Regions from separate parts of the Homo sapiens genome. Here region 1 is linked to region 2. The links come from fine-mapping of genetic effects on gene expression. A gene starts in region 2. The other region holds a variant in brackets. All regions are shown on one strand. Distances are between the middles of the regions.

Region 1 (4,386 bases), 56 kb before region 2:
TGCCTGCCTCAGAACAGAGTGGAAGAAGTCCTGGGCTGGGAGATGCAGAGAGCAGGGAGCGAAACCACACCTGGCACCTGCTAGAAGGCATGGCACCGGGACAGCCACCAAGAGCTCAGGCTCAGAGCGCTGGGGCTGAGGGAGGGCAGATCCAGCCTCTCCCTGACCAGGTCATACTCAGAGCAGCGGGAGCCATGCAGACTCCACAAGAGGGACATCAGCTCAGAAGTGTGACCAGAGCAGACTTTAAAGCATGTTTCTGGGGGGCAACAATGCAAAGTGAAAGAAGCAGGACATAAGACTGTCCTGTCACACCCATGTGCACACACACACACACACACACTTATTTGCATAGAAAAGTCTGGAAGAAAATACACCAAAACATAAATAGTAGTTATCTAGGTGAGAAATTAATAGTTTGAAAACAGTTTTCCAATATATGTTCCAAAATTTCCACAACAAACACGCCTTATTGTTATAATTGGCAAATACGTGGGGCCAGGAAGGTATGCCACCTGAAGAAGGGGTCCCAGGGGTCAGTTTCCCGGGGCTGCCAGGACAAATCACCACGAACTCGTGGTGCGTAATGACAGGACTTTCTTCCCTCAGTGTCCTGGAAGCTGGAGTCTGAAACCCAGGTGTGGGGCAGAGGTGGTTCCTCTGGGATGCCAGGGGAGAATCTGTTCCACTCCTCTCCTGGCTTCTGGTGGCTGCCGGCACTCCTTGGCACCCCTTGGCTGGTGGCAGCATCACTCCAGCCTCGTCAAGAGGCATGCTCCCTGTGTCTTAGGGTGGGTGAGGGTCTACCCTGATCCAGTATGACCTCATTTTAACCGGAGTGCATCTGCAAAGAAAGATCCTATTTCCAAATAAGGTCACAGTCATACACACTGGGGGAGACAACTTCAGCTTATCTTTTTGGGGGGCACAATTCAATCCATAAGAAGATGTAGTTGGCCCAAAGGAAAATAAGACACAAAGGGCTGTGGTCCCTGTCTTTAAATATCGCCAGCCTCTCCTGTTTTGGAAGGATTAGACTTGGTCTGTCTGACTCTATGGAGAAGAAAGAGGACCAATGAGTGGATGTTTCCCCAAAACAGACCTGGTCTCAAAATAGGAACACAGCTGTCCTAAGCTACACTGGCCATCTTGCGCGGAGAATTCCCTGACTCAGAGGGCCTCGGATTAGACAGGTGCCCCCTTAGCTCTGATGTGGAAGTATTGGAGGGAGCACTGGACCAAATAATTTTCAGGTCCTGGCAGCCCTGAGATTCTGCATTCACACAGGCATAAATGATGCAAGCAGTGCCCAGTGCCAGCCAGGCCGCCCCATAGTGGCTGTTCAATATCCCACTACCCTGGCCTCACCCACACTGGGAAACCCTTGATCTTAAAGCAAAGCTGCTCTGCTCAGCATTGTTCTTCCTTTTGGTCTCTCAAGGAAAGCTGGAAACTGTACATTCAACGCAGACAAGGATAAAGGCATCAACCACGTGGAGAGACACAGAATTCTAGGAGTTAAACCACGTGGAGAAGCTTACACCCCTGATTCTAAGGGTGTTTCCCTCGCCTTGACAGTACCAAGGAACCGTCCTGTGCCCCTGGTCAGGCCTGCTGGGGCTGAAGTCACACAGACCAGGATCAGAATGGTTAAGAAAACCATCTGCAACATGTGTCAACTCAGTGGGGACAGCCTCAAGAATAACACTTACGTAAGAAACAGCAGTAACGTTGCAAGTTCCGTTTATTTTTGTTTGTTTTTATTTTATTTTATTT[T/C]TTTTTTTGAGATGGAGTCTCACTCTGACACCCAGGCTGGAGTGCAGTTGCACCATCTTGGCCCACTGCAGCCTCCGCCTCCTGGATTCAAGCGATTCTCCTGCCTCAGCCTCCCGAGTAGCTGGGACTATAGGAGTGTGCCACCACATCTGGTAATTTTTGTATTTTTAGTAGAGATGGGGTTTCACCATGTTGGCCAGGCTGGTCTTGAACTCCTGACCTCAGGCGATCCACCCACCCCGGCCTCCCAAAGTGCTGGGATTACAGGCATGAGCCACTGTACCCGACCTGTTTAATTTTTTCTAAAGGAGACAAAATCTTATTTGTCATGAGAGGGGAACACTGTTCTTCAAAAGTTCCTCTTCTCACCCCAAATACAACACACAGAAACTGCTCACCTCTCCACAGGGTCCCTGAGCATGACAATCAGTCTGGCATTTGGCTGAAAGGCGTGGATGAAGTCCTGCGTCAGAAACGGTGGCTCGCCATCCGTGCTGTTGTCGTAGAAGAACGTCCAGGCATTATTATCCCACATCGTGGAGGCACTGGCCTCCCCTGGAAACAGAAAACACTCCAAGTGAGCAGGGGTGTGATTCAGGCTCCCACGGAGTGGCTCTAGGTGCCAGAGGCCACACCTGGCCCCGATGCCTTCCTCTTAAGCAGCGGGAGAGGCCAAGCTGTCAGCCTTTGCGGGCATCTGGGACTCCAAAGAGAGAAGGTTGGATGCCCCCCCCTGCCACAGCCACACCCCACCTCCACCCCAAAAACTTCTGTCTGGAAGTCCAGGCGATCCATGCAACACTGAGTGCCCCCACCCCTGAGCTCCTCTTTCCAAGGGGAGCAAAAATGAAACCTTCCCTAGCACCTGGGCCCCCAGTTTCACAGTATTTAACTTTGCTCACAGTGCACAGCTCTGTGGCATTTTAAGGGCCCACTGAGAATGCAGTCTGTCAGAAAAACACGCCAAAACATAAACAGCAGTTATCTAGGTGGGAAATTATAGGTGGTTTTGAAAATGGTTTTCCTGTATAGTATTCCAATATATGTTCTATACAGTAGATGGTTCTAGTAATAATAGATGGAGTTCTCTCTGAACTGGGGGCCCAAGATGATGAAAGGCCTTGACATTTCTGCCCAGGATCTAACAAAGAGAAAGAGCTGGGGCAGAGCTGAGCCACATTTCAGAGCCGGGAGGAGCCGAGAACTGGTCTAGCAGACCAGGAGCCTGGAGCTGGTACTAGATGATTTCCTTCCAAAGCGTCAGGAGAAAGGAGGAGGGTGGGAACACTAACCCTTATGAGGAATTTGAGTGTGATTTCCTTCCTTGAAGCTGTAACTGTTCATCACAGAGCATACTCTAAGACTAAAAGAGAGAGGGGCTTTGCCACAGGGCTCACACGCCCTGTCTCCTGCGAGGCGACTGCTCTGCACGCAGCTGGCGCCTACTCAGTGCAGCCTGGGTGAACGGGAACTGGGTCCCAGCCAGTTTCACATTTCATCATGGTCCTCACGAGTGAAGGATGTAAATGGCAAACACACGTCCCAGCACAGAGGTGATGCCAAGACACAGGCAGGCATTCCAACAGCACAGACTCTCTCAGAGGATGAAGCCAAATTTCCTGAGGGTTTGAGGAGAGACAGTGTGTGTGCGTGTATGTGTGTGTGTATATGTGTGTGTTTAGGAAAAAGGAAATTCATCAATCAGCTCTACACTTGATTTCCTGACAGTTTGCCAAGGACCACAGGACACATCTGAAAGTTACTTATCTGGGGAGAGACTGAGCCAGATGACTGAGTCTCTTTGGTCAGTGACAAGTGTATCATATCCCTGCAGGCCCCTATCATTTCTGTCGGATGCGTAATCACATCCAGGTGAACAGCTCTGTTCTGGCCTTTTGTTCTTTCTTTTTTTAAAGAGATAATACCCTAGGATACAGAAAAAACGAGTCAATCAGAAGTCCCTTGAAAATTCTACTCACAATGAATAAGAATATAAAGGACAAGTGAACTCTCTAGCTAAATTGGCACAAATTCTGTCAGATCTCAAAAATGAACTGGTTTTAGAGCCATGGAGGCGTTTGTCCATCCACCTGACTGTCTTCCTTCCATCCAGCCACCATCCATCCTTCGTCCATCCAGGAAGCATTAACTTAGTGTCTAATCCGTGCTCAGCATTGTGCTTGGCACCAGGGACAGATCAGGGGAGGAAAGCACGGCCCCTCCTCTCTCGGACCTTAAGACATAAGGGGGACGATGGCAATTCAAGAAACAAAGAGTACCACGATGGGTACCTGGGAGTAGAGGCAGGAGACTTTCAACATGTCTAAAGCTCCGGCCTCAAGTTCAGCCATCACGTTCAGGCCACTTGAATCCTGAACCTCTTGTGTGACTCTAGCTGTCAAAAAGACAGCAGAAGAAAGGTCCTCTCTGACCTAGGGGCCCAAGATGATGAAAGATCCTGCTGTTTCTGCCCCGAATCTAACAAAGAGGAAGCGCTGGGGCAGAGCTGAGTCACATTTCAGAGCTGGAAGGAGTCTAGAACTGACCTGGTCCAACAATCCCACTTTGCAGAGGTGCAGACAGAGTCCAGGAACAGGAAAAATGAACGGC
Region 2 (4,386 bases):
ACACACTCGCGCGCACGCCGGCCCATCGGTTGCCTGGAGGAGTCGGGAAGGTGCTTCCACGGCTCTTCATTCATTTTCCCAAAGGCAAGGTTCCCTTCGCCCCGGCGCCTCTATCCTGCCATCCCAGGGGGCCAATTGCGCCACAGCCCGCCACCCAGCCACCCACAGCCACCGCGTCCTATCTCCCGGCACACACAACCCAACAGACTCGCATTACATCTCCACCGCCAGCGTCGCCTCCGCGCCCCGGCCGCTGCCATCCGGCTCCCCAGCTTCGCCGCCCCGCAGCCCCGGCTCCCCGCCTCTGGCCTCACCGCGCGGCTCAGAGCTGCCTCGCTCGGCTCGCCGCACCAAGGCCGGCCAGAGACGCCGCCACCGCCGGGAAGCGCCGGCAACTCCCGAGTCACGCCGCCTCCCGAGACGCGGCGGGGCGCAGGGAGGGGACAGCAGTGGGGGCGGGGCGGGGAGGAGGAAGGAGGAGGGGGCGGGGAGCAAAAGTTCACACCGCTCGGGGCTCAGCCGCTCCCCTATCTCTTCCCAGGCCCGCCCCCGCCATCCCCCTTCCCTGAACCGGGTCCCACGGGCTTAGGCGCGGGAGAGCTCTGGCCTCCCCGCCCGGAACCGCCGCAAGGCTAGAGCCAGGGTTCTGGAAGCGCATCCGAGCTCGCAACCGGGGAGAGAGTGGCGGATGCCCACTTACCTGCCCCGGGCCGCGCCTGGAAACTTCCCCAAAGTGCGATAGGGGTGTGGGGGCGGAGCGCAAGGCTGGGGGGAATCCCCGTCCCCTACCGCCAAACGACGCGCGCTCACACCGTGAAAGCACTGGTCTGTCCGTCGGTCGGTCCCCCGCCTGCGGCTCCCAGAGCTGGGCGGTGCAGGGGCGCCCCGATTCCGACTACTGGGCTCCTTCTCCCGGACAGCCCGCCGGTGCGTTCCACGCGGCTTGCGCCCCCCGCCGGCCTCCGGCTATCCACGGCGCCACCACGCCACTGCTCGGTCCCCTGTCCCCTCGCTCCGGCCGCGTCCTCTCTGCGAGGGAGGGGGCGTGTGTCGCCGCTGGGTAACCCTTCCCGCGGGGTCCTCAAGCGCGCAGGGCGCCCGGAGCGCGGCCAGGACCAATGGCGAAGGGACTCCTCCCGCTGGGGATCGCTGAAGCCTCGGGGAGGCCGGGCCAAGGAGCCCGGGGCCCAAACCTGCCTCGGCTCGTCGAGCTCGCAAGTTCATTGTCTGCCTGGGCCGCCGCCGCCACCGCCACCGCCACCACCGCGCCGGGAGCGCCGCGGGGAGTGAGGCTGCGCGCCGCCTCCGCCGGCCCGGACTCCCTACGCCCAGCCCCGGCCGCCGCCGGCGCTGCCTGGCCCGAACCCGCGGAGGGGCGCCGGAGCCCCGAGCCCAGGGCCAGACCTCCTACCGCCGCTCCTCGCCGACCCCACCTCGGCGTCTGGCACCTAACTTGTACCTGAGAAGCCTGAGTCCAGCCCGGGAGCCTCTGCGGCTCCGGCTCCGCGGGAGCGCGCCCAGCCCCGAGCCTCTAGCCCCGCATCCAGGGCGCGTCAACCTGACTCCCCGAGCGCTGGGAGGAAAAGTTTGGGAGTGACGTGCAGACGGCGAATGAAACATCCGAGGAGAACCCTCCCCCCGCCCCATGTCGCGCTGACACACATCAGCTCCAGTCTGGAATGTGAGATCAAGGCGTGTGCGCCGAGCGGTGGGTTTGGCCCCTGCCCCCTCCCCCTCCGAGTCAACACTGCTTGTGTGTTGCGGTGATTCCAAATAAAAGCACATCGAAACCCCTGAAATCTGGCAGTGACACCTTGCCAGATACTTCTTTTTTTTAAAGACAGAGTTTCGCTCTTGTTGCCCAGGCTGGAATGCAATGGCGCGATCTCGGCTCACTGCAACTTCCGCCTCCCGGGTTCAAGAGAGTCTCCTGCCTCAGCCTCCCGGGTTCAAGAGAGTCTCCTGCCTCAGCCTCCCGAGTAGCCGGGATTACAGGCATGCGCCACCACGCAAAATAGGCTAATTTTATATTTTTAGTACAGACGGGGTTTCTCCATGTTGGTCAGGCTGGTCTCGAACTCCCGACCTCAGATGATCCGTCCGCCCCCCCAACCCAAAGTGCTGGGATTACAGGCGTAAGCCACCGCGCCCGGCCGCCAGAGACATCTTTAAGGAACTTGGCGGTCTGGAGCCAGCCCGTACATTAATATTCAAGGCCACAGCGCTGGTGAGTTCGGCGCCCTCTGTTGTATTTTTGCATCCCGGGAAGGCTGGCCCGGCTCTTTGGCCCGGCGTGTTTTGCTTCCGCGGGGGAGGTAAAGCTCTGCAGGACCCCGATCGCCACGGCCTGCCGCAGTGGCCTGGAGTCGGCTGCCCCAGGGAACCACCTGGACAGCCCGAGGGCAAGAAAGCGGCACCAGTGGCCGACTCCACTGACTCTGGGCTGAAGATGCCATCAGTTAAAGAAAAGACACATGAAATTCTGGCAGATTCGCTCAGAGGGCGCTTGGAGCACCAAGCCCAGCCTCTCAGGAAACTGAGGTCCAAGGGACAAAAAGAATCTGCAGTCTCTTGCCGGCCTGTGTCCCCGTGGCCAGAGTCCAGCACCCTCTTCCTCGAAGCAACCAGAAGTGGAAATGAAAGTGCTCCGTTAACTGTAGACTACATGCCACCGAAGGGTCATTCCTGACAGTGGCTTCTCCCCATTATCTCTTTATTGCCGGAGGCTTCATCTCGCCCCCCTGAAGCTACAGTCCACCCTGAGGTCATAAACTTCTGCTCAGCACCCATGGCAACTAATGCAGAGGTCACCATCAGAGGATTATAACTGCAGATGGGAAACCGGGATGAGAGGGGAGTTCTTTAAAATCCTGTCTTGTTTTCCTGCAAATAATGCCTCTTACATAAAATCTGCGAAGAAAGATGAATGCAGCAAAGAGACTTGCCTTAGAATCTCAGACTAGATTGCTTTTTCCATATAGACTCCACTTAGTGATTTTTGTTCTTTATTTTTTTTTTAAACAAAAACCTATTTCTGAAAATACAACGAGCTGCTTTTTGCAGGGTTCACAATTCCCAATAGATGATGATGCCATTTTTCAAGGTCTCACACACGTTGTGGCTTTGGGGCTTATTTATTAGCTCCCAAGAAAAGCCTGCCTTTCAGTGAGGTTTATATACTCGAGTAATTGCATCAGGGGACACAGAGCAGGTTGCTGTTAAAGAGGGTTGGTTGTACATGCGTCTGCAAGGAAGGCCCTGGGCCAGGCAGCTGTCAGACCAGTGTGCAACGGGTTTAAACAAACACAGGGAAGGGTCTGTGGAAACAGCAAGGAGGAAATCCCCTTCTGTAAGGGTGTGTGGAACATTATTCCAGGGCCACACATACTGCCAGGGAATAATGCCTTTCCTCTCCTCCCTCCAAGTAAACACATAACTCCGTTATGGAGATGGCGCTGGGCCCACCCAGATCACTTTCAAATTCAGGTGTCAGAAACCACGGTTGACATGGAGCAAAATTGTTTTTAAGTAAAAATCACGGTGCCGCTTTGATATGAATTCCACCAGGGACTTTCCAAAGGTATTTATACACGTGCCTGAGATTAACTAGAAGGTGATTTTTTTCCTTTCAACCTTAATTTCAAAAAATTACCCAAGAATTGCACTTGAGCCTGTTACTGCAGAGAATTGAAAGAACACCCAAATGCCAGGTCCCTGTGGATGGGTGGAAGGATAGACAAATAAATGTGTAACTGCAAGAGAGGTTGATACCAACATGGTATTAGCAAGTCACGGCTGAAAAAAATGCAGATACCGGCCAAGCACGGTAGCTCACGCCTGTAATCACAACACTTTGGGAGGCCGAGGCGGGTGGATCACTTAAGGTCAGGAGTTCGAGACAAGCCTGGCCAACATGGTGAAACCCCGTCTCCACTAAAAATACAAAAATTAGCTAGGCGTGGTGGCGCAAGCCCGTAGATTCCCGGGAGGCAGAGGTTGCCGTGAGCCGAGATCACACCACTGCACCCCAGCCTGGGTGACAGAGTGAGACACCCTCTCAAAAAAAGAAAAAAGAAAAAAAAATGCAGATACTTTCAGAAAATAAATCCCCGCTTCCCGTGTGTGCACTCTAGGCCCCCACAACTGTGGATTTAAATTGCCTGGGTTCAAATTCTACTTCTGCCACCCACTAGCTGAGCAACCCTGGGCAAGTCACTTCTTTCCATGCCTCAGTTTGAGGCTTCTGGTAGCACCTACGAGCAGTCAATTGAGCTGTTGATCCCAACTCCTCACTCTCCCGTGGTGGTTATCACACGTCTGCATCCTTGTCACAGCCTTCCAGTGCAGGGACTGTACTTCCCCATTCCTTGACTTTGGACTTGCTTT

What was found. PIP is the estimated chance that this variant, and not a neighbour inherited with it, causes the effect.
Region 1: its variant is fine-mapped to the expression of CHST15 in whole blood (TOPMed, PIP above 0.99).

Annotation. Positions count from the first base shown.
Region 1 is chr10:124,036,341-124,040,726 of GRCh38, forward strand. CHST15 (carbohydrate sulfotransferase 15) reads right to left here. Exons shown (of 8, transcript NM_001270764.2): 5 at 2,175-2,331. Among named protein-coding and RNA genes, the nearest start is that of CHST15, 55 kb to the right of the region's middle. The variant T/C (reference allele first, on the strand shown) is at 1,777.
Region 2 is chr10:124,092,010-124,096,395 of GRCh38, forward strand. CHST15 (carbohydrate sulfotransferase 15) reads right to left here and starts at 1,589. Exons shown (of 8, transcript NM_001270764.2): 1 at 1,460-1,589.